7 linked regions of the Homo sapiens genome follow. The protein of the gene in region 4 interacts with the protein of the main gene of each other region in a pairwise test. Each region holds a gene or a part of one and is shown on either strand. Other genes may lie near its edges.

Region 1 (3,298 bases), on a different chromosome or scaffold from region 4:
CAGCCTAGGCAACATAGCAAGACCCTATATCTACCAAAAGTAAAAAAAAAATAGCCAGGCGTGTTGGCATGCACCCATAGTCCCACCTACTCAGGAGGCCGCAGCAGGAGGATCACTTGAGTCCAGGACTTTGAAGCTGCAGTGAGCTATGATTGCACTGCTGCATTCCAGCCTGGACAGTAGAGTGAGGTCCTGGCTCAAAAACAAAAAAGTCTCCTCTCCATCTCTAGTAAAAGTAGAAAGCTTTAGTCTGTGCTTCTCTGGAAAGCAAACTCAATCGTTTTCCTAATGATGAGCATTGAACTGGCCCTGGTAAAGTTTCCACTCATTCTTTTTCAGTCTAAAGCCGCATTTGAAAGGGAAAGTGATGTCCCTCTGAAAACTGAGGAATTTGAAGTGACCAAAACAGCAGGTACGGAAAGATGGGGATGGGGTAGAGGTGACGCCACCCCCATCCAAGGGTGGGCAATCGGGGCAGTTTGGAGAGGGGGGTCAGCCATAGGGGTCCTGGAGACTGTAGACCAGGCATCCACAAACTGATTCTATAAAGGCCACCTCGTCAATATCTTCAGCTTTGTGGCACTGTGGGTTCTGTCTAGAGCTGTGCCATTGTGGCACAAAGCTGCTGCAGACAGTATGTCCATGCGTGGGTGTGGCTGTGTGCCACTAGAACTTTATCTTAGCTGGGCGCGGTGGCTCATGCCTGTTACCGCAGCTGCTCAGGAGGCTAAGGTGGGAGGATCATTGGAGCCCAGGAGGTCAAGACCAGCCTGGGCAACATAGCGAGACCCTGTCTCTACAAAATTTTTTTAAAAATCAGGCTGGGTGCGGTGGCTCACGCCTGTAATCCCAGCACTTTGGGAGGACGAGGCGGGCGGAACACTTGAGGTCAGGAGTTCCAGACCAGCTGGCCAACATAATGAAACCCCATCTCTACTAAAAATGCAAAAAATTAGCCAGGCGTGGTGGTGCGCACCTGTAATCCCAGCTATTCAGGAGAATTGCTGGAACCTGGGAGGTGGAGGTTGCAGTGAGCTGAGATCATGCCACTGCACTCTAGCCTGGAAGACAGCAAGATTCTGTCTCAAAAAGAAAAAAAATTAGCCGGGCATGGTGGTGTGTACCTGTAGTCTCAGCTACTTAGGAGGCTGAGGTGGGAGGATTATTTGAGCCCAGGAGGTCGAGGCTGCATTGAGCTATGATCGCACCACTGCACTCCAGCCTGGGCATCAGAGTAAGACTCTGTCTCAAAAACAATAAACAGGGCTGGGCATGGTGGCTCACACCTGTAATCCCAGCACTTTGGGAGGCCAGGAGTTCCAGACCAGCCTAGCCAACATGGTGAAACCCCTTCTCTACTAAAAATACCAAAATTAGCCAAGGATGGTGGCACATGCTTGTAATCCCAGCTACTCAGGAGGCAGAGACAGGAGAATCTCTTGAACTTAGGAGCAGGAGGTTGCAGTGAGTCGAGACTGCACCACTGCACTCCAGCCTAGGCAACAGAGGAAGACTCTCATCTCAAAAAAAATAATAAATTTTAAAAAATAAATAAATGAAATAAAACAAAGTAGAAACCATCAGGGCTTTGAGGTTGGGACTGTGGCATGCCGAGGGGAGGCTGCAGGGGTCACTGGGAAACATCAGGGTCCTTCTTCGGTTGCCTGAGCAGCACCGGTGTCCTCAAGCCACATTCAGCTGCATGGCGCCAATGCTAAGCAGAAAGAGGAATCGGAGGCGCCGAGCTGGGGCAAGGGTGGGAGCCAAGGGAGTGGACACAGCAGGTAGGGCCGGGAGACTTGGGTGAAGCAGTGGAAGCCAGAGTTCTGACCCTGCTGGAGAAGTGTCATGAGGGCCTCAGACAGGTTCACCCACTGAGCAGGAGGTCTTGCAGCCTGACCCACCCTGCATCCTGTTCAGGCCGGGATCATCTCCTTCCTGGGCTTCTTCTGGCCCCTTTCTGCATCTCTTCTTGACAACATGGCACAAATGACCAGGGTTCTTCCCACCTCAGGTCTTTCTGTGGCTTCCTGCTGCCTGCCATCTATGTTAGCCCCACCGACCTTACCCTCCACATCACTGTTTTCCTGTCTGTCACCCGTAAGACTTTCAGTGCCTGGGGCCTTTTCACATGGGAGTCTGCTTTGGAGACTGCTCCCCTTGCCTGCTTAGCCCCCACCATGGGCCCCACCCCAAATCCTCCGGACTTCTGAGAATTTTCAATGTTGAGGGCCCAACCATGTGTTTCTTTCTTGCAGTGGCTCACAGGCCCGGGGCATTCAAAGCTGAGCTGTCCAAGCTGGTGATTGTGGCCAAGGCATCGCGCACTGAGCTGTGACCAGCAGCCCTGTTGCGGGTGGCACCTTCTCATCTCCGGTGAAGCTGAAGGGGCCTGTGTCCCTGAAAGGGCCAGCACATCACTGGTTTTCTAGGAGGGACTCTTAAGTTTTCTACCTGGGCTGACGTTGCCTTGTCCGGAGGGGCTTGCAGGGTGGCTGAAGCCCTGGGGCAGAGAACAGAGGGTCCAGGGCCCTCCTGGCTCCCAACAGCTTCTCAGTTCCCACTTCCTGCTGAGCTCTTCTGGACTCAGGATCGCAGATCCGGGGCACAAAGAGGGTGGGGAACATGGGGGCTATGCTGGGGAAAGCAGCCATGCTCCCCCCGACCTCCAGCCGAGCATCCTTCATGAGCCTGCAGAACTGCTTTCCTATGTTTACCCAGGGGACCTCCTTTCAGATGAACTGGGAAGAGATGAAATGTTTTTTCATATTTAAATAAATAAGAACATTAAAAAGCAACCCCACAGCCTGGGCCCTCCCGGCTGGCCGTTGCGGGTCAGGAGCTCAGACGCGGCTGACACTGCCCCACCGTGGGCGGGTGGGCGGTGTCTCTGGGTGGGACTTCTCTGCAGGCATCAAAGCGCTAGATCCCAAGGTGGCTGTATGTGAACTTGCCCCCTTCCCCCCTTGGCACTCGCTGTCCCTGGGTCCCCCACATGTTGTGAATTCACACCCGGGTTTCTGTGGCTGCCACAGGCCCCAGCGCGGGAGGATGTTCCAAGGCCGACCTGCTCTCTGCAGCCTGGGGCATTGGTTTCCCTTAGTTTGTTTTTCTTTTGAGACAGGGTCTTCTCCTGTCACCCAGGCTGAAGTGTAGTGGTGTAACACGGCTCACTGCAACCTCCACCTCCTGGGCTCAAGCGATCTTGCCACCTCAGCCTTCCAAGTAGCTGGGACTACAGGCACACGCCACCATGCCCGGCTAATTTTTGCATCTTCTTTTGATAGAGACAGCGTTT
Region 2 (3,500 bases), on a different chromosome or scaffold from region 4:
ACACGTTTTAACCAGCATAGAGATCTGGGCCCTGGTTCTGCCACAGACATGCTGCGTGGCTCCAGGGAAGTTCCTAGTGGTCTCTGAGCCTGGAGCAGGACCCCTGACGCTGCCCAGGCCAGGCCTACGGGGATAGAAGGGGGGACCCTCACCAGGCTCGATGGGCTGGAAGGAGGATCCCGCGAGCTCTTCTGAGGTGAGCTGTCCGAGTCAGTGCCGAGGTTCAGCTTCTCCACCGATATGTCACTGCAGCAGACGAGAGGAGGGTGTGTCTGGGACCCAGGACCCTCGCAGGCTTCAAGGGGCAGCCGGGACCATGGGGCCCTCCTTCCTTACCCCGTGGTCCGGGCCTCGGATCCTGGAGAAGCCCCAGGGCTAAAGGTGCCTGTGCCCGTGGCATTGGGGATGAGCCTCCGGAGCAGCCGCACCCACGTGGCGACATCGATGTTCATCTGCCTAGCACGCTGGAACGCCTTCCCTGGGGGGACGGGGCAGGCGTCACCCTCCATGACACTCCCAGGACCCCTGGCCTCTCCCCCAGGAAGCCTGGAGCACCCTCTCACCTTGCTGCTTGGAGAAAATTTTCTTCTGCCGTCGGAGCCGAGGAATCCTCTCAATGACAGGGTTGCGGAAGGTGACCTGGGGGAAGGGACCAAAATGTGAGGACCCTCTGCCCACCTGCAGGCAGACAGCTTGGTAAGGAAGCCCCTGGGAGCACAGGTGTGCGCGCCCAAGTGGGGTTCTGGTCACGTGGCATCAGATTCAACCCGAGTACCAGGTGACAATGAAGAGGTCATCGGTGCAACCCATGGCTCCCCTCCTGAAGGGACGTCTTGGAAAAGCAAGAAGCAAACAACCGGGTCCCTTTCTAGAGGTGGGGAGAGCATCTGACCCAACAAGACTGACAGACAGCGACTGCAAACGGACGCCACGCCATCCCACACCCCATTCCCCACATGTGCTCCCAGACCCCAGACCTGCAGTAGCAGCAACACCTGGGAACTTTCTAGAAACGCAGGTTTGACCTACTGAGCCAGAAACATGGAGTGGAGGAAGCGCGCGCATGCTCTCTCTCTCTCTCTATATATATATATATATACACACACACATATATATATATACACACATATATATATGCACATATGAGTAGTCCGATCTCGGCTCACTGCAGCCTCCACCTCCCGGGCTCAAGAGATCCTCCCACCTCAGCCTCCTGAGTAGCTGGGACTACAGGCACGCACCCCCATGCCTGGCAAATTGTTGTATTTTTGTAGAGACGGAGTTTCACCATGTTGGCCAGGCTGGTCCTGAACTCCTGGGCTCAAGCGATCTGCCCACTTTGGCCTCCCAAAGTGCTGGGATTACAGGCGCGAGCCACCGTGCCCGGCCCTAAAGCACTCAGTATTTCAACAAGCCCCCAGGCAATGCTGGTGCCCACCCATCTATGGAAGCCACCTGTCAAGTTGAATTCTCCCAACTCCAATACAACTTCTAGAAGGTGCTGAAGTCACAGAACTGCAGTGTCTGGTATGGTTGTCACATGTGGCGATTTAAATTAGTGAAAATGTCAGCGAAATTAAAACTTTGGTTCCCTGGTCACACTGGTCACACTTCAGATAGAGAACATTTCCATCTACAACAGAACTCAGCTACTGTGGGTGCATCGACAACAGAGCTGCAGAAAGTTCCTTTTTTCTTTGAGACTCTGTTGCCCAGGCTGGAGTGCAGTGGCGCAATCTGGGCTCACCACAACCTCCACCTCCCAGGCTCTAGAGATTCTCCTGCCTCAGTCTCCCGAGCAGCTGGGATTACAGGCACCCACCACCAAGCCCGGCTAATTTCTTTTTTTTTTTTTTTGAGACACAGTCTCACTCTGTTGCCCAGGCTGGAGTACAGTGGTGCGATCTTGGCTCACTACAACCTCCGCCTCCCAGGTTCAAGTGATTCTCCTGCCTCAGCCTCCCAAGTAACTGGGATTACAGGCGTGCGCCACCACACCTGGCTGATTTTTGTATTTTTAGTAGAGACTAGGTTTTTCCACGTTGGCCAGGCTGGTCTTGAACTCCTGACCTCAGGTGATCTGCCTGCCTACCCTCCCAAAGTGCTGGGATGACAGGCGTGAGCCACCGCACCCAGCCGAATTTTTGTATTTTTAGTAAAGACAGGGTTTCACCATGTTGGCCAGGCTGGTCTCAAACTCCTGACCTCAAATGATCCATCCGCCTCAGCCTCCCGAAGTATTGGGATTACAGGCGTGAGCCACAGCGCCCGGCCAGAGCTGCAGAAAAGTTCTATGGAAGAATGCTTCTGTATAGGCATAAAAACAAAATAGAATGCCACAGAGAGACCTTGAAGGCAAGGAGAAACGCTTTAGAATGTGTCCCCCAGGCCACCCACCATCACTTTCCATTTGGTTTGGGCTGTGTTCTGAATGGGAGAACAATTTTAAACCTCTGCCATCTGGAGTCAGCTCTTCTCCACGCCCCTTTCTTTCTTTCTTTTTTTTTTTTTTGAGACAGAGTTTCGCTGTTGTTGCCCAGGCTGGAGTGCAATGATGCGATCTCGGCTCACTGCAACCTTCATCTCCCAGGTTCAACTGATTCTCCTGCCTCAGCCTCCCGCGTAGCTGGGATTACAGGCGCCTGCTACCACACCCGGCTAATTTTTCTATTTTCAGTAGAGACGGGGTTTCACCATGTTGACCAGGCTAGTCTCGAACTCCTGACTTAGTGATCTGCCCGCCTCAGCCTCCCAAAGTGCTGGGATTACAGGTGTGAGCCACTGTGCCTGGCCCCGCCCCTTTCTTTCACTGGTGCTTGATGGTCAGACCAGGGGAGAACCTCTGCTTAGGGATATGGATATAGAGAGATGGATAAATAGACACAGAAAGAGACAGATATAGACGCAGGTAGATAGAGAGGGGCATGGACGGAAGGGTAGTTACAGATAGAGAAAGAGAGAGGGACTGATAGAGAAAGGGATTCATAGAAAGAGAAGGATGCATGGATAGATGGATGGATAGATAGATACAGCTATCGAGAGAAAAAGAGAGAGAGACACAGATAGATACAGAGAGGGATAGATAGAGACAGAGACAGGAATGGGTGGATATAAATAGAGATAGAGGAATATACAGAGATGGATGGATGGAGGGATGAGCATAGATAAGATAAATGGATGGATGGATAAGATGATAGATAGATAATATAGATGGATAGATAATATAGACAGATGGGTAGACGGAAAGATAGATTAGTTGATAGATAATATAGATGGATGGATAGATAGATATAGCTATATAGAGAAAAACAGAGGCACAGATAGATATAGAGAGGGATAGATAGAGATAGAGAGAGGAATGGGTAGATATATATACAGAGAAATATACAGGGATGGATAGATGGATGGATGATGCATACATAAGATTGATGGATAAGATGACTGACAGATAATAGAGACGGATGCATGGAAAAATAGATTGGTTGATAGATAATATATAG
Region 3 (3,689 bases), on a different chromosome or scaffold from region 4:
GCCGATATCACTGGAAGATATTCAAATCGTCTCTATGCTTACGAACCTGCAGATACAGCTCTGTGTAAGTGTGACCTTCAATTCGGATGTTGCCCAAGAGTTGAACACCTCTATTGCTGTAGTGATGGGACTAGAGGCTGCATGGTGAGGTGAGAGAGAGCTAGGCTTAGGGACGCCTCGGACTCAGTTTGACCCTAACTAGCCTTGCATCTTCAGGCAAATCACACTCTTTCCATCTCAGGTTTGTTTGTTTTTAATCTCAATTGAAGATGAATTATTTAGATTAGGTATCTTTTTCTCTAGGAGGATTCTATGACCACATTACCTGATTTTCAGGTTTTCTGTTAGGTACACGAGCACACACTCCTTCTATCACAGAACTGAGTGTAATAATTGTAATAATCTGCATGTCTTAATTTTTTAAATAACAAAAGTGAAAGAATGTGCAGTCCAGCTTAAAATTAAATTCAGGTTCAGTTTAAAGATCAGTTTCAAAGATGATCCAAATGATTGCCAAGAAAATTACCTTCCCTATGGTTGCCATCAATGGAAGAGAGACAGAGAGAGAGAGAGACACTGACTTAAGGCAGATGAGGTACCTCAATGCAACGCTGTAGCTAGCTGTGACATCTGATTAGTCCTCTGGGAAGAAAAGTGGGTTTTATCCTAGGAACCAACTCTGATCAATTAGTAGTGGCTGCCTAGAACTGCACTGTCCAATATGTTAACCATTTGCCACATGTTGCTACTTAAGTTAAAGTTAGAAATTCATTCCTTCAGTCACACTAGCCATATTCCAAGTGCTCAATGCCCGGACACTGAACATTTCCATCATCACAGAAATTTCTATTGGCCAGTGCTGACTTAGAACGTCATGTTGGGAAGAGAAGTGAGGCCGTGTCTAGGAAGCAGGAGAGATCATCATGGTCCATTAGCAATGTTTCCAGTGTGTGCTGGACCAGGGGAAGCACATTCCAAGTACTGTCAGCCATTACTGAGATAATACCATACATTTTAATAAGACTAAGCTCTTAAAAGGCACGTGTCCTACACAAGTAATATCACAATCCCTTGTAGAACAGGCACTTAATAATTAAGATTTGTAGGAAGAGTGAATAAGCGGCTGTTCAATGCCTATCGAGTGGACATCTTATTTTTAGTAGATCACATACCTCATTTTGATGAATTGCTGTTGAAGAAACAGTGACCCAGAGTTTGGGCTCTGGAACAGTAGCTCCATTACTTGTTAGCTGTGTGACCTTGAGCAAGCTACTCAGCCTCTCTCTGCCTGTTTCATTATGTATATATAAAGTTCTAATCGTGTTTGTATGAGGATTAAAGAATTCATCTGCATAAAGCACTTGGTTTGCTATTATTTATATTTCCCCTACTTCTAAAACAATTTACACACACCTACTAATAGACATTTCTTTTAAACATGATTTAAATTTACTTCTAAATGAGCCAAAATTATCTTCTGCTGCTAGAGCTTATAAAAGGATTCTTTTGGAAGTGAGGGTTGGAGATGAAGGATCTGGGAAGGAATGACTACACTAGAAAACTAGATTGTCACAAAAGCCATTTCATATAATTTTTTTAAATTACAATAAGATTACCAACTATTCACCTCATGATAAAAAGCATCCTATCAGGCTGGGCACAGTGGCTCACGCCTGTAATCCCAGCACTTTGGGAGGCCGAGGTGTGTGGATCACTTGAGCTCAGGAGTTCGAGACCAGCCTGGCCAGCATACCAAAACCCCATCTCTCCCAAAAATACAAAAATTAGCTGGGCATGGTGGAGCACACCTCTAATCCCAGCTACTCAGGAGGCTAAGGCTGAAGAATCACTTGAACCCAGGAGGCAGAGGTTGCACTGAGTGGAGATTGCACCACTGCATGCCAGCCTGAGTGGGAGTGAGACCTTGTCTCAAAAAAAAAAGCATCCCATTAAATAATGAATTGAGCATCCAAGTTTGGGGTTTATTATATCGATATAACGCACGATGGTGTCTTGACTCTCCTGCTTTTATCCCCCATTAGTGCTTGACAACATGAAGAAAGCTCTCAAGTTGCTGAAGACTGAATTGTAAAGAAAAAAAATCTCCAAGCCCTTCTGTCTGTCAGGCCTTGAGACTTGAAACCAGAAGAAGTGTGAGAAGACTGGCTAGTGTGGAAGCATAGTGAACACACTGATTAGGTTATGGTTTAATGTTACAACAACTATTTTTTAAGAAAAACAAGTTTTAGAAATTTGGTTTCAAGTGTACATGTGTGAAAACAATATTGTATACTACCATAGTGAGCCATGATTTTCTAAAAAAAAAAATAAATGTTTTGGGGGTGTTCTGTTTTCTCCAACTTGGTCTTTCACAGTGGTTCGTTTACCAAATAGGATTAAACACACACAAAATGCTCAAGGAAGGGACAAGACAAAACCAAAACTAGTTCAAATGATGAAGACCAAAGACCAAGTTATCATCTCACCACACCACAGGTTCTCACTAGATGACTGTAAGTAGACACGAGCTTAATCAACAGAAGTATCAAGCCATGTGCTTTAGCATAAAAGAATATTTAGAAAAACATCCCAAGAAAATCACATCACTACCTAGAGTCAACTCTGGCCAGGAACTCTAAGGTACACACTTTCATTTAGTAATTAAATTTTAGTCAGATTTTGCCCAACCTAATGCTCTCAGGGAAAGCCTCTGGCAAGTAGCTTTCTCCTTCAGAGGTCTAATTTAGTAGAAAGGTCATCCAAAGAACATCTGCACTCCTGAACACACCCTGAAGAAATCCTGGGAATTGACCTTGTAATCGATTTGTCTGTCAAGGTCCTAAAGTACTGGAGTGAAATAAATTCAGCCAACATGTGACTAATTGGAAGAAGAGCAAAGGGTGGTGACGTGTTGATGAGGCAGATGGAGATCAGAGGTTACTAGGGTTTAGGAAACGTGAAAGGCTGTGGCATCAGGGTAGGGGAGCATTCTGCCTAACAGAAATTAGAATTGTGTGTTAATGTCTTCACTCTATACTTAATCTCACATTCATTAATATATGGAATTCCTCTACTGCCCAGCCCCTCCTGATTTCTTTGGCCCCTGGACTATGGTGCTGTATATAATGCTTTGCAGTATCTGTTGCTTGTCTTGATTAACTTTTTTGGATAAAACCTTTTTTGAACAGATCTTTTGGCATTATTAATTTTTCCAGGGATATATTTTCAATCTTTTCTATCTCTCCTAGTGACTACTATCATTAGTAGGTGTTGAGCATATACTGCTGATTTAATGACATACAAATCTTCAGCAAAAATATCACAGGTTAATCAGCTCCCTTCTCACAAGTAGATAACTTACATGTGCTGAAAAAGGTAAAACATTCCATTTAAAAAGATCTCTGAGGGATAACAAGAGGAAAAAGAGGTTTCCCTTCCATAAACAAATATTTTAAATGACAAGTTCTAAGTGATTCAAGTTTCTCCTATAGTATAGCAAAATATTTTTTCATTGGGCGGACGTGAAATAAGGTTAACTTCTTAAAATGTATTGAATGGCAAAATATCTTAACACATACAAATACTTTTTAAATATAAATAAATATTTAGGAAATCAAATGTTACAGCTGTAAGGAAAATAAGTCCCCCTTTTAAAAGCATTGAAGAAACACAAAGCATGAGTCATTAAT
Region 4 (3,500 bases):
GTAAATATTTTAGGCTTTGTGTGCAGTCTCTATCACAACTACTTAATTCTGCCTTTGTAGCAAGAAAGCAGCCATAAAAAAATTGGCGTGTAAACTTTATTCACAAAAAACATTTCTAGATCAGGGCCTGGCCTAGAAAAGGAACATTGAATAAAAAGACAAGAGAACAGAGACAAAACCCTAAAAACCTAAAAAGTCAGGAAGAAGTAGCCAACAAGATTAGAAAGGTAGGAAGAAAACTAGAAGGAAAGTTTTAAGATGGGAAGTAAGTGGTCAAGTCTGTTCAACGCTGATGAGAGGTCAAATAAGATAAAGGATATATGTGCATTTGGTTTAGGGACATAGTTTCAGTGAAGGGAGCAGAAACCATAGTGAGTTGGAATTAGATAAACACTGGTAGATATAGACAACACTGTGGTTTCTGGTGGAGAGGGAAACTTTTAAATCCTGGGGTAGGAGGTTCCAATAGATTAGAAGAGAATGGAAAACTCAACGTAGTGGTCTTAGGTCAAGAAACAAATGTAGTGGGAATAAATAAATAAATAAATAAATAAATAAATAAATAAAAGAAATACAGCCTGGGCACCATGGCTCACACTTGTAATCCCAGCACTTTGGGAGGCTGAGGCAGGCAGATCACTTGAGGTCAGTAGTTCAAGACCAGCCTGGCCAACATGGTGAAACCCCGTCTCTAGTAAAAATACAAAAATTAGCTGGGCGTGGTGATGCGCACCTGTAGTCTCAGCTACTCGGGAAGCTGAGGCAGGAGAATCACTTGAACCCTGGAGGCAGAGGTTGCAGTGAGCCGAGATTGCACCACTGCACTCTAGCCTGGGCGACAGCAAGATTTCGTCTCAGAAAAAAAAAAAAGAAAAAAAGAAATATGGAAGTAAAGGTATCAGAACTAGAACAAAAGTTTGTGGTAAAAGACTGACTTCTAAGGTTCGCAGATAGATTTCTGGATGATGATAAGGTTAAGACTGACCATGGGACCAGATGGCTAAAGGGAGGTACAGATGAAGCTCCTGACGTCTCAGTGTCTGAAACTTGGCCACTATATTAGCAGTCTATGTAACCATTAAAATATTCCAGGTAGCTCTGCAGATTAAATTACAGGGAGAAAGTGTAGAGGCTGAAAAAAAAGGCCGTAGAGTGAAGGTCTGGAATAGGCTAGTAGTGGAGAGTAACAGGCAAAAGGAGACCTTGTAAAGGAAGAATAAACCCTATTTGGTGATGATTAGAGGGAGAAGTTGGCGATCACACCACAGTTTCAGTTCCCTGGAGAATTCTGGTCCCATCGATGCACCGGACTAAACTTGGAGCTAATGAGTTCAGTTAGGTGTTCATTGACATTGAAGAGATCATCAAAAGCATTTCAAAAGTAGTCAGAGGTTGTTGGGAGCCCTAGGATTATATAACACATGGACGATTCTCTCTTTCACAGGAACTGTCGACAAACACTCAGTGGAGGTCACCAATTGCTTTTCAGTGCCGCACAATGAGTCAGAAGATGAAGTGAGTGGGAATCCAAGCTGTCCCTCTGCAGTTTTTAGCTGTTCATTTGCTCGGCTCCCCTCACGGTCCCTCCCACACTCATAACTAGAGCTCCTGTAGCCAAGGAGCTTCTTCCCATTTGTACGTACTTCCTGGGCCTCTTCTGTTTATTGGGGGTGGCCTCTTGTCCTTTTTAACCAATTTTTCTTTGGACTTCTGGCTTCTTAGCTTGCTTTCCTGCCTTCCCTCTTAGGTGGCTGTTGACATGGAATTTGCTAAGAATATGTATGAACTGCATAAAAAAGTTTCTCCAAATGAGCTCATCCTGGGCTGGTAAGTTGGGGAGGTGGGGGCTGGGGTTAATGGAAGGTCTCTTCGTGATTGCCGGTGTCTTTTGCTACTGGACTGGATCTTATACTCTTCCTTTTGGAGGCAAGAGTATTGCAAGTGTATTACTGACTGTGAGCAGTGGCTCAATGCCTGTAATCCCAGCTGGGAGGCTGAGGCAGGAGGATCACTTGAGCCCAGTAGTTCAAGATCAGCCTGAACAAAATAGTGAGACCCTGTCTCTACAAAAACATTTTTTAAAAACTTAGCCAGGCATGATGACACACACCTATAGTCCTAGCTATTCAGGAGGCTGAGGCTAGAGGATCACTTGAGGCCAGGAATTTGAAGTTGCAGTGAGCTATGATCATGCCTTGCCACTGCATTCCAGCCTGAGTGACAGAGTGCGACCCTGTCTCTAAAAAACAAAAGGAAAGTGTGTTACCTGTAGGAACTGTGAATTCAGTGGGTTTTGCTGGTGGTTCTGATCCTGTGGGGCCAGGATATTTCGAATTACCTTGTAAGTGACTTGGAATTTTTCATCAGCACTAAGTCAGCCTTTGATTTTATTTGACATAGTTTTCGGTGTGTGTATTGCTCTTGGCAGTTGGTGTCACTAGGTGTCCTACCGTAGAAGTGTCCGGTACCCTGAAGACACCCATGCCACTGTTGTGTTTGATATTGACGCCACATATAGACAGGAGTCCACCACTGTGTTCCATTTCACAGGTACGCTACGGGCCATGACATCACAGAGCACTCTGTGCTGATCCACGAGTACTACAGCCGAGAGGCCCCCAACCCCATCCACCTCACTGTGGACACAAGTCTCCAGAACGGCCGCATGAGCATCAAAGCCTACGTCAGGTGACCACAGTCTTGGGCTACAAGGGCATAAAACCATGCCCAGATGCCATCCCTCCCCCACCCCAAGCAAGGTTAATTCCTTCCATGTGTAACTTGCTGTGTCCTTAGGAAGCCTGTTCCTCTCTCTCAACAGTTATTCTAAAGGTTTCACTCTGAAACAAAATCTGTTCCTGTAATTTCTACCGCTGATCCTAGTTGTACTCCAGTTTCTACTCATTGCCCTTTTAAGTATTTGAGCAAGCTGTCAAGTCATCTTTTGTAGGACCTAACTATTCCATAGTTCCTACAGCCAATCATCACATGGTATTCTTGTCATGATCCTTCACCACATTCATTACTTTTCTGAATTACCCATTAGTTTGTCATTATCTCTAGAACTCAGCACAGCGCTCAGGGTAATACAGATTATAAGGATGACTGTCCTTATTTTGAACACATTTATTAACCCAGGATTGAGTGCAGTTTTAATGACAATGACATTACAGTGAACACGTTGAGCTTGCAGGTGGTTAAAATGCCAGTTATGGGGGATGTTGGGAAAGGCCCTGGTGGCATGCTGAGGAAGCAGCTGTGGTAGTTGGAAAGACCATGGTCAAAGGGAAGGCAGCTGTTAGTGCATCTGTCAGGCTGTTGATTTTGTGCTGGTTCTGTGTCTGACACTGACATAGCCAGTTAACTCTTACACAGTACACAGTAAGACAAAGATGGTGGATGCCAAGTCTTTATGAGCCAGTTGGCATACCACTAAGCACTAGCCATTGCCTGACTTCTTAACCTTCCCAGGTATTTCAGACTCCTCAAGATCCAGTATA
Region 5 (3,500 bases), on a different chromosome or scaffold from region 4:
TAAAGTAACATTTATTATAGACTAATAGAATTTTTTTAAATCTGATAAAATTCCTCCTTTAGAACAAAATTTAAAGATTTGGGTTACAGTTTTAAATCTACTAAAGCAAAAGGTCTAAAGTGCACTACCATTTCAAAAATGGTGTAATTTAAATGGTTTACTTAAAAAAATCCTGTTACTATGCATGAAATCAAAATAAAAATGAAAATGTTGATAATTCCAATTAAACTCTATTCTACACAGTTGATAATTTATCTAGACTCAGGTTTCGCTGCTTGAATTTTAAAGGTATTTTGGACCACATACACTCCAAGATTAAAGAGTTTAATTACATTTGCTCAGTTAGTTAGAAAAGATGTACTTACCTTGAACATTTCACTTAAATACATTTTTAAAACTAACGTTATTATGAGAGTCAAAATATTCAGGCTGGGTGCAGTGGCTCATGCCCATAAATCCTAGCACTTTGGGAGGCCGAGGAGGGAGGATTGCCTGAATTTAGTAGTTCGAGACCAGCCTGTGCAACATGGCAAAACCCTGTCTCTACTAAAAATACAAAAAATTAGCCAGGCATGGTGGCACGTGCCTGTAGTCCCAGCTATTCAGGAGGCTGAGGCATGAGAATCACTTGAACCCAGGAGGTGGAGGTTGCAGTGAACCAAGATCATGCCACTGAACTCCAGCCTGGGCGACAGAGCAAGAGTCTGTCTCAAAAAAAAAAAAAAAAAAGCGAGAGTCAGTCTAAATATTCAGTGATAAATCATTTTATTTACACTATTTAATAAACACAAACAGTTCCCTGTATTTAAAAGGGAGAAATGCTGTAAGCCGGTTTTTAATGCAGTGGCCAATAAACACTTAAAACAGATAAAATTAAGGTAGTACAAAATCATTTGCTACTAAGAATGCTTATTTTCTTTTTTTTTGAGATGGAATCTTGCTCTGTTGCCCAGGCTGGAGTGCAGTGGTGTGATCTCGGCTCACTGCAACCTCCACCTCCTGGGTTCAAGCGATTCTCCTGCCTCAGCCTCCCAGGTAGCTGGGACTACAAGTGCCCGCCACCATACCCGGCTAATTTTTGTAATTTTAGTAGAGACGGGGTTTCACCATATTGGCCAGGCTGGTCTTGAACTCCTGACTTTGTGATTCGCCCGCCTCGGCCTCCCAAAGTGCTGGGATTACAGGTGTAAGCCACTGTGCCTGACTAAGAATGCCTATTTTCTATAGTGCTATTTATAGTAGTAAAGAAATAGAAACCACCTAAATATCCAACAGAAAATGGGTTAAACAATGTACAACCATACAACAAACTCCTATGTTAACTATTAAAAATGATATTCAGGAAATATGTGTATTAACATAGAAAGTTATTCACAATGCACTGCTTAAAAAAAAGTTATAATAACAGACTACAGCGTACTTGGATCTTTTTTAAAAGAACAGGTATTATCAATCGTTATGTCTGGGTATGTTATGGATTATAGTAGTTTTCATCTTTTCACTTATATGTAATTTTAGCTATTTCTGTATCAAGCATGGACACATTTGTCCCCAGATGAACAAATACTTGGGTCTACATATCCAGGTAGATAAATGGGTAATGAAAACTTACCTTTACATTTTCATGAATAGACTGAAGTTGTGCCGCTAAAGCTACAAATGTTTGATAAATTTTCTGCATAGCCATTGACAAATCTATAAAAGAAAATTACATTATCACCCAAATATATACATATATATAGCACAATCCATTTTATTTTTCTATTTGAGTCCAATTTTTGGCACAGTTAACGTGTAGGAGAAAAAAACTCTATCAACGTTCTCATGGCCAGAGAACACACAGAGTAGCAGACTGAATGTCTACAAAAGAAATCTGGGGGGAAGGCCCTAAGATTTCTGTCCTTGTTACCACAGTAACAATTCATATAATAAAGCATATTATATTTATAGGGAATAAAGGAGTAGTAAATGACTTTTAAGGAAATTTTCTTAAAGGGGCTACCAGTAGTTATCCAAAATACCTATTATATAACCACATCTATCTCCTACAAACAAAAGTTCAAAAAAAATTACCACAGTAAGCATGTTACCTTGAGGGGTTATATGTGAATTATTTGCTTGAGTGGCAAGATGGTTTTCTAGTTCTTCAATCTGCTGCCTGTACTGCTGAAGCTGTACCTCAAATTGCTGAACCAAGATTCTGAAGTAGCTTTAAAAAACATTTAAAAAGTCAGATCAAATATTTTTTTAATTTGGAGTGACAAATCCAAATTAAGGAATATTCTGCAATCATTTAATAGTCTTCAAAAGTATCAAGGTTATCCAAGGAAAGGAAGGACTGAATAACTGTGACTGGAAGATATTAAGGAGAAATTACAAATGCACTGTGAATCCCAAATAGGATGCTGAAACAGAAGTACACTAGTGGAAAAACTGGTTGAATTTCAGTAAGTTTAGTAGTTTAGTTAATAATATTGTAACAATTTTAGTTTCCTGTTCTTGGTAATTATACTATAGTTATAAGTTAACATTAGGGGAAGCAAGGGAAGCGATATAAATAAATTCTCTGTACTACTATTTTGGAAGTTTTCTGTAAGGTTAAAATAAATTTAAAATAAAGTAGAAACGTCTACCAACCAGATTTCAGAATTAAGAATTTATAGTCATTTTATCAATGAAATTTATAATCTGAGAACACCATAGTATACTACAGAAAGCACATGTAATTATTGCTACTTTTCTAATAAATTTACCCACAGAGAGTGCTAGACAGATAAAAAAAAAAAAAGAAGGTATCTTGAATAGTATACAGAGGAATCTGAATGTCTTTCAGTAAACAATGGGCAACCATGAATGCATTTTGCAAAATTAGCTCTGATGGCAGTATTAAGTACAAGACAGAGGGATAAAATAGTAGAGGAAGTCCAGTGAGGAAGCACATCTCATGCCAACCTGAGTAAGACGAATATCATGGGCATTATGAATTTCCTGATTTTGAGAACTGTTAAGTATGAGAATATCCTTATTTTTAAGAAATATCCACTGAAGTACTTTAGCATAGTGAACATTATTTCTGCAAATAACCCAAACTGTTTGGGGGAGAAATGTATATACACACATAGAATGTGAGGAACAAAAATATGGTAAAAATGTTAATATGTAGGAAATTGGAATGAAAGGCATACAGGAATTTTTAGTTCTCATCTTGAAACTTTTCTGTAGACCAAAATTATAATAAAAAACTAAAAGAATAAAATAAGTAAGGGGCCAGGCGTGGTGGCTCACATCTGTAATCCCAGCACTTTAGGAGTCTGAGGCGGGAGAATCACTTTAGCCTAGGACCAGCCTAGGCAACACTGTGAAATGGCATCTCTACAAGTTAATTAATTAATTGTGAGGGACCAGGAATCAAACAGACCTCCACCACTCAACTCACTTTTGCATACCTCAGTCTCTTTATCGCTAAAACTGGAATAACAACAGCTACAGAGATCTTGTGA
Region 6 (3,500 bases), on a different chromosome or scaffold from region 4:
GAAAAATAGGAACAGGAACAAAAAGAAGACCAATGACTCAGAGGGACAGAAACACAAACGCAAAAAATTCAGACAAAAGCAGTAATGTTTAAAAGGTTTTTATTAAATTATACAAAAACAGGCAGTTAGAAATTGTGTTTTCTTCCTGCCCCATTGACATTTCTAAGGCCCTAATGCATTTGTTCTGAGGTTTGACAGTTGAAGCCCTTCACCAGTGCTAGGGAAATAAAGCCTCCTCAACCTTAAGGATTTCAGTGATAAGAGTCTGAAAGTCTAGCACTTCAGGTAGACTTTGGATGAACTAAGAGGTTCCACAGTCACCCTGTCATATAACTGTCTGACAGAAATAGGGGATGAGGTCTATAAAATGGAAAGGGTGGTATTTCGTTTTTATTGGTAATGAATGATTTGGAATAGAAGCATACAGAACTGCAAATTTCAAGGACGTTAGTGTACATGGCCTGGCCTTTGAAATACAAGGAGAAAGTTGGGTGCAGAAGAAATAGGAGAAAACTACAATAATTTCTGCCTCATTGAGTCTGTGAAGTAGACCCACTTATGGCACATACGTTCCTGTCTTAGAGGCCTGGAACTAGCAGATCTCGTGGAAAGAGTTCTTTCCCATGGAAATGACAACACAGGCAGGTCATTTGAGTGGAGGCTTAAAATTCCTCAGGATACTGGATCAGGGTAAAAGCTGCTCCTTAGATTCCAGATGAGAATGTGTATGGTGTGTTCAGCATAGGGAACACAGCTTTTCTGGGGAAATGACAGTGCTTCCATTGTGAGCCTTGAAGCTCACTGAACCCAAGACGGATGGCAGGTGGAAGCTCTGCTAAGGAGAGGCCCTTCTTACGCCTCTTTCTGGGGAACCTGAGCATGTTAGTGCCTTTTAGGTAATGTTACTTGTGCAGCCTAACTGAAGGATGAAGTCCTCCAGCTTACCACCCTAGCCCACCCTGGCTTGCCCCGAACTAAAGATTTATGTCACTCATTCAATCTTCTGGGTCTACAAAACCAGGAGAATGGAAGAGAAATACTAAAATGCAGTTGTCTAGCAGCCGTACTCCAATTATTAGTCATTAGACCTGCATGTGAGATTTAGTTACCTCTTCAGTTGTTAATTAACATCACTACTTCGGGGAGTGCAGAGTCAGGGCTTGATTTTCTGCAGGATAAGGGGAACAGATCTGTGCTGGGGGAAGAGCTGAGTTGCAGACAACTCACAAAGGCCACTGTGACTAGTATTCCTTTCTGGCAAACATTTACTTTCTCCAAAGCCATGGGTTTGACTGCCATTGTTTCCTAATGTAGGCAGTCTGAAACCGAGGAGGAAGGGGTCCAGTTGACTGGCAAGTGGGGATAATACATTAGAAAACCAAAGCTCCAAAGTGAGTTAGAAATGCATTAGAGTAGGGAAAAGAAGACATTAAGTAAGGAAGGCCAGAGGCCCAAGAAGCCCAAGTTAAGGTAGAAGATGAATTGTGAACTAAAAGTTTGAGGGGCAGAGAAGCAGATTCATTTGGCCAGAAATAAGTATTGGTATAGAGTGATGATGAGAAAGCAGTGGCTTTCTTAGAATTTGAGTTGGCAGTTCCCAAGGCTGGCTAGTAAGCCACACACGGAGACTAACAGGGCCACACCATCTTCCATTGCCCAGCCAGGAGCCTGGCTGGCAGACCTTAGGTGTCTGATGACATTGGAGTAATAGTGTGACTTCTAACAAATACCTAGGTGGTGTTTAGGGGAGGTTATGGCTTGTTCACTCAGGAAACTAGCTTTTTATTACAAAGGGCTTATGATGATTTTATTGGCTGCCAGAGGAACACAGTAAATAACTCCCAAGTGTCTTGTTGGAAATTAATCATGTGGAAATTATCACTTCTTTGGTGCAATAATGCCTTCCAGTTGGGCCTGAAAAACAAAAACAAGCTCCATTAATACTTGAAACTTGCAGCCTGATACAAATAGCTGAGAGGTGATCAAATCTCTGGGAAGAAGAATCCACATGCTGTCACTCCAAGGGTTCTTTTTCCCCTTGATCCCCAAATCCATATTTTCTAGATTAGCTAGTTTCTAGCTTGGCATACAGTCTTTAGTATATGAGGAGAAGCCAGAGCTGTCCTGGTTTCAACACAATAATGGCTCCGGGTATGATATAAAGCATTGAAAAGGATATTGAATGCATTGTTGTAAGGGCTTTTCATGGCTCAGGTTTCAGGCCAGAATATGTCTGCTAAGTTAAACATTTGGCTCTCTGGCCGGGCGCAGTGGCTCATTCCTGTAATCCCAGCACTTTGGGAGGCTGAGGCGGGCGGATCGTGAGGTCAGGAGATCCAGACCATCCTGGATAACACGGTGAAACCCCGTCTCTACTAAAAATACAAAAATTAGTTGGGCGTGGTGGCAGGCGTCTGTAGTCCCAGCTACTCCAGAGGCTGAGGCAGGAGAATAGCATGAACCTGGGAGGCGGGGCTTGCAGTGAGCCAAGATCGTGCCACTGCACTCCAGCCTGGGTGACAGAGGGAGACTCCGTCTCAAAAAAAAAAAAATATTGGCTCTCTGGTTTAGGATCCTGGGAGTTCTGCTGGGACCAGAGGTTTGGGAAACAGTGAATTTTCAGCCACTGAGACAACTTGGCACACAATTAGAGAAATGCTGCCAGTGAATACAGAGCTGTCCCTCTTTGTTGGGGGGTGGGGGTGGGGAATGGAGTTTTGCTCTTGTCACCCAGGCTGGAGTGTGATGGTGTGATATCGGTTCACTGCAACCTCTACCTCCCGGGTTCAAGTGATTCTCCTGCCTCAGCCTCCTGAGTAGCTTGGATTACAGATGCACATCACCACGCCCAGCTACTTTTTGTATTTTTAGTAGAAATGGGTTTCACCACGTTGGCCAGGCTGGTCTCAAACTCCTGACCTCATGTGATCCACCTGCCTCGGCCTCCCAAAGTGCTGGGATTACAGGTGTGAGCTACCACACCCAGCCGAGAGCTGTCCCTCTTTATGTAAAGCTTAAGACACTTGGGAGTTATTTACTATGTTCCTCTGGTAGCCAATAAAATAATACTGGACAGATCTTTAGGTAGGTCTATCCTGGGGACAGCAAAGCTGCTTTATTTGCAATGCAGTTTTGAGCCAATAAAAATAGCTCACTTCCTGTATTACAAGCCTGTAATTCCAGCACTTTGGGAGGCCAAGGTGGGCAGATCATGTGAGGTCAGGAGTTCATGACCAGCCTGGCCAACATGGTGAAACCCCATCTCTATTCAAAATACAGAAATTTGCCGGGCGTGCTGGCACATGCCTGTAATCCCAGCTACTCAGGAGGCTGAGGCAAGAGAATCACTTCAACCCGGGAGGTAGAGGTTGCAATGAGTTGAGATGGTGCCATTGCACTCCAGCCTGGGCAACAAGAGCAAAACTCCGTCTCAAAAGAAAAAAAATTTAAAAATGCCAACTTCTAAAGAATCTTTCACCCTGGAGATTACAAGATTGCTT
Region 7 (3,500 bases), on a different chromosome or scaffold from region 4:
ATCCTTGGTAATTAATTAAATTTTCTTGAGTCCTGACAGGAGAGTCTGAATCAGAATTAAATTAGAGGCCAAACCACCTTTAAATTCAGGAACAATTATACCTTAACAATGGAGGCAGAATGTTAGCCATAAAGGATAATTAGATATAGAAATATCTGATATGTGGCTAAAACTGTTCGTTTTTTTGTTTTTTTTTTTTCAAAAAGACCATGCCCCTGAAAGGGGACTGGTGTTCACATGAATAAAAGCCTCTTAAACTGATATTATAAAATATAACTTGTGATGAAATACCTTAATGGTTCAGAAAAGCTGACTTCAGACCAGGAGAGTAATAGCGAATATTAGTGATGTGTTTTCATGAAGAGTTTCTTACCAGTTTCCTATCAGAAGCCAGGCCTTTTGGCTAGAGTAAATGAAGACACGTTTACAGTGATTTACTTACAGAGGGTCCTGGGGGACCAGTCCGTCCAGCAGCACCAGGGAAACCAGTCATACCCTAAGAGCCAAGCACATTAGAATTCCACAGTCAACATCAACTCCAAGAATTTGGGTAAGATGGGAATTTCTTTGTTTTGGAAAATCAGTACATGTGACCAGGAATAGACCAAGGAGTAGGAGGTAGGCAGCTTCATATAGGGCATTATTTAGCCAGGACCCTGAAGGCCCTCCTTCTCCACACATCTTCCTTACCAGCATATTACCAGTTGCAATGCCCATATTTTGCGTTAAGGTTTGGATGGTCCTTTCTGAAATGCTGACATATTATCTTATGGTTGTAAAGGTATGAAGATAAGACACTATGTCATTATTACACATTAATGTGTATACATTAATAACTATCTTTACCACCTGGCTGAGTGGTAAGGAAATGGACACTTAATAGGTAATGGTGTTCATGGACAAAAGAATAACAAATGACCTAGATAATTCAGCACTGTCCAGTGAGAGAAGAAGTCAGTAAAGTTCATTTTTGGGGAGCTCTGGGTCTCTAGAGAATTGTTGTGATAGCATTGCCTGCAAAGGAGAAGGACATGGTCAGGCAGAAGAAGGGGCATATTAATAAACGCCAAAAGGAATATTTTTTCCGACTTTACAATTAAACTGCCTAGGGCCCACCTTGGTTATTACCTCAAGTGAGCTGATAGCAACATACACTGAGTTCCAGCTGAGTTCAAGTTAACATCAATATCGGAATTGCTCTGAATAGAATGAACTTGAATCTCAAAAGTTTCCTCATGGTAGTCCAAATTTACCAAAAATTTCAAAACTTTCAAGTGTCCTTAATAGATTCTGAAAAAAGAAAAGCGGCGAGAGTCCATTGTAAATACTCACAGGGGGGCCTCCATCACCACGACTTCCAGCAGGACCGGGGGGACCATTTGGACCCTAAATGCAAACAAAAAGATGGAGTCAAATCACAAACAAACCCTTGTAAATGCTACTCTTTTCTTCAAGTGGATCATTCCCGCATCTCTTAGAAGAAAATATAGAAATAAAAAATGACTATCTGTGTCAGAATGTTCTTCAATATTACCACCCTTATGAGGTTATCAGAGAATTAAAATAAAACAATATTCATGAAACTTTTATACTTTGTAAAGCAGTGTGCAAATGTTAATCCTTCCGTTATTTTCCATCTTCTATCTGGTATATTCCCTGTTGCATAGCAGGCACTTGACGGATATATATTTAATTGGAAGATCTAATGGGTAGCTGCTGTGTGGACCACCAGTGAATTCAACTTACAGCTGGGCCAGCAGCTCCAACGGGGCCTGTGGGACCAACAACACCGTTTTCACCCTTAGGCCCTTTGGCTCCTCTTTCTCCTTTAGCACCAGGTTGACCAGCAGCACCCTGTTGGAAATAAACAGTTACAGCTCTGGTATTCCGACCCACTCTACTCCCCAACTTAGGATGTTTTCAGATTAATCTTCATTATGTGATACTCACAGCAGGACCAGCAAATCCATTGGGGCCAGCAGGACCGACCTCACCACGTTCACCCTAGGTGGGAGAAGGGATTTAAAAATGTGTTATCAATCCTAGGTTCATCAATGTCTAAACATTGTGAGGTGTGAGTATACAAAATGACCCAGGTTCTTACTTACAGGGCTTCCCCGAGGACCAGCAGGACCAGCAGGACCAGCAGCCCCAGCTTCGCCCTATAATGGGACCAAAGATGAATCTGTTAATGTGCCTGACATAGATGCTCAAAGAACTGGGAGGGAGAGAGAACAGTGGTGGACAGACAGAGTCTGTAGTTGCCTTGGAAGAGATAACTGACGCACATCTCACAGAGTAAAATGAAGTGGATTTTTACTTAATGCTATATTCATTTTGGGGGTTAAGTAGTATGGGTTATACACTTGAGAAAACACTATAAATCAGTGCCTACAATACCAGGAGGAGGACATTTTAATTTTTAGATGGACACGGGGCTGATCTATTTGTGGCAATCTTTGCAATACAATAAATAAGATCTATTTTAAGTGGAGAGTTCAATGTGAAATGGGCACACTATGTATTTTATTGATTTTTTGGTAATAATTGAAGGCTTTGAGAAGCCTCAGTGCATTAGGATATTGTTAATGCGCAACATGGAGAGACTTTAAAACAAATGCTAGGGATTAGAGTATAGATCAGATAGCTGGCAAATCTATAGGAAGGGAAAAGTAATTTTAAACACACAGCATTTGTTTCCTGCTGCTCTATCACAATAGCTAGGTTTTTAAATAAGTAGGCTTTATACCAAGCCATAAAAATGAATTGCTGGGGCTCTTTGGGACTAGGGAAGGCGGGAAATTTTAGATATTGCTGTTGGCTTAGTGAAAATGCATGCTTACCCGGTCACCTGTGGCTCCAGCAGGACCAGGGGCACCTACAGCACCAGGAGCACCCTAGTACCAAAAAGGAAACATGTCTTATTAATAACACCCCGTATCATCAAAAGTGAACCTTGTCATTCTTTTTTTCTGTGCTTATACAGTGACTGAACACTTTCACTGCACTCTGGTTGGATATCTAGAAGGCCTCTGATGTATTTTGGTTCTAATTAACAAGACTATTAGAAGCCACTCTCAGAAGGAGGGTACTCCAGTAATAAAGGTTATGGAAATGTGTAAGTCAATAGCAGGTCAGAAATTTGGGAGATCTGAACTTTCCGCTATTGTAAAATTCCCTGGAGAGCAGCAAATGAGTAGCCTTGTTTGAAACTGTTAGAACTACGTGATTCAAAAGAAAGACTATTACAGATGTGCTACAGTCAGTTTTCAGCTCTGAAGGAGAGGTGAATAAAGGAATCCAGGCCGACTGTGGCCTAGAAGACCCATGAGGCTGACATACGAGATAAGGTAATTAGACTGTCATGGGATTATCTTTGGCATCTTCATGGCATTAACAGCTAATCTTTGGGGCTGCTCTTTGGGTGATAAATTTCTAGGGAGTAGGTTTGAATAACTATAGAATCTTGTTAGAGGTCCCGGCTTCCTAAAGCATAGGAG

What was found.
Region 1: the proteins of EIF3F (region 4) and MYDGF interact in binary tests that used the Homo sapiens proteins (3 or more experiments, as listed by UniProt).
Region 2: the proteins of EIF3F (region 4) and PKN1 interact in binary tests that used the Homo sapiens proteins (3 or more experiments, as listed by UniProt).
Region 3: the proteins of EIF3F (region 4) and AGR2 interact in binary tests that used the Homo sapiens proteins (3 or more experiments, as listed by UniProt).
Region 5: the proteins of EIF3F (region 4) and NUP58 interact in binary tests that used the Homo sapiens proteins (3 or more experiments, as listed by UniProt).
Region 6: the proteins of EIF3F (region 4) and DNALI1 interact in binary tests that used the Homo sapiens proteins (3 or more experiments, as listed by UniProt).
Region 7: the proteins of EIF3F (region 4) and COL1A2 interact in binary tests that used the Homo sapiens proteins (3 or more experiments, as listed by UniProt).

What each region holds. Positions count from the first base shown.
Region 1 is NC_000019.10:4,657,045-4,660,342, reverse strand, and holds the end of MYDGF (myeloid-derived growth factor precursor), read left to right. Parts: intron 1-339; coding exon 340-412; intron 413-2,258; coding exon 2,259-2,338; 3' UTR 2,339-2,798; downstream 2,799-3,298. UniProt on the Homo sapiens protein: Bone marrow-derived monocyte and paracrine-acting protein that promotes cardiac myocyte survival and adaptive angiogenesis for cardiac protection and/or repair after myocardial infarction (MI).
Region 2 is NC_000019.10:14,460,806-14,464,305, reverse strand, and holds part of PKN1 (serine/threonine-protein kinase N1), read right to left. Parts: intron 640-3,500; coding exon 564-639; intron 479-563; coding exon 337-478; intron 247-336; coding exon 153-246; intron 1-152. UniProt on the Homo sapiens protein: PKC-related serine/threonine-protein kinase involved in various processes such as regulation of the intermediate filaments of the actin cytoskeleton, cell migration, tumor cell invasion and transcription regulation.
Region 3 is NC_000007.14:16,791,311-16,794,999, reverse strand, and holds the end of AGR2 (anterior gradient protein 2 homolog precursor), read left to right. Parts: coding exon 1-64; intron 65-2,042; coding exon 2,043-2,092; 3' UTR 2,093-3,189; downstream 3,190-3,689. UniProt on the Homo sapiens protein: Required for MUC2 post-transcriptional synthesis and secretion. May play a role in the production of mucus by intestinal cells. Proto-oncogene that may play a role in cell migration, cell differentiation and cell growth. Promotes cell adhesion.
Region 4 is NC_000011.10:7,990,337-7,993,836, forward strand, and holds part of EIF3F (eukaryotic translation initiation factor 3 subunit F), read left to right. Parts: intron 1-1,444; coding exon 1,445-1,515; intron 1,516-1,747; coding exon 1,748-1,827; intron 1,828-2,550; coding exon 2,551-2,688; intron 2,689-3,500. UniProt on the Homo sapiens protein: Component of the eukaryotic translation initiation factor 3 (eIF-3) complex, which is required for several steps in the initiation of protein synthesis.
Region 5 is NC_000013.11:25,325,625-25,329,124, reverse strand, and holds part of NUP58 (nucleoporin p58/p45), read right to left. Parts: intron 2,210-3,500; coding exon 2,091-2,209; intron 1,696-2,090; coding exon 1,613-1,695; intron 1-1,612. UniProt on the Homo sapiens protein: Component of the nuclear pore complex, a complex required for the trafficking across the nuclear membrane.
Region 6 is NC_000001.11:37,563,440-37,566,939, reverse strand, and holds the end of DNALI1 (axonemal dynein light intermediate polypeptide 1), read right to left. Parts: intron 1,915-3,500; coding exon 1,879-1,914; 3' UTR 86-1,878; downstream 1-85. Other genes in the region: GNL2 (nucleolar GTP-binding protein 2), read left to right, coding at 1-85. UniProt on the Homo sapiens protein: Involved in sperm flagellum assembly.
Region 7 is NC_000007.14:94,418,895-94,422,394, reverse strand, and holds part of COL1A2 (collagen alpha-2(I) chain precursor), read right to left. Parts: intron 2,898-3,500; coding exon 2,844-2,897; intron 2,163-2,843; coding exon 2,109-2,162; intron 2,005-2,108; coding exon 1,951-2,004; intron 1,855-1,950; coding exon 1,747-1,854; intron 1,387-1,746; coding exon 1,333-1,386; intron 497-1,332; coding exon 443-496; intron 1-442. UniProt on the Homo sapiens protein: Type I collagen is a member of group I collagen (fibrillar forming collagen).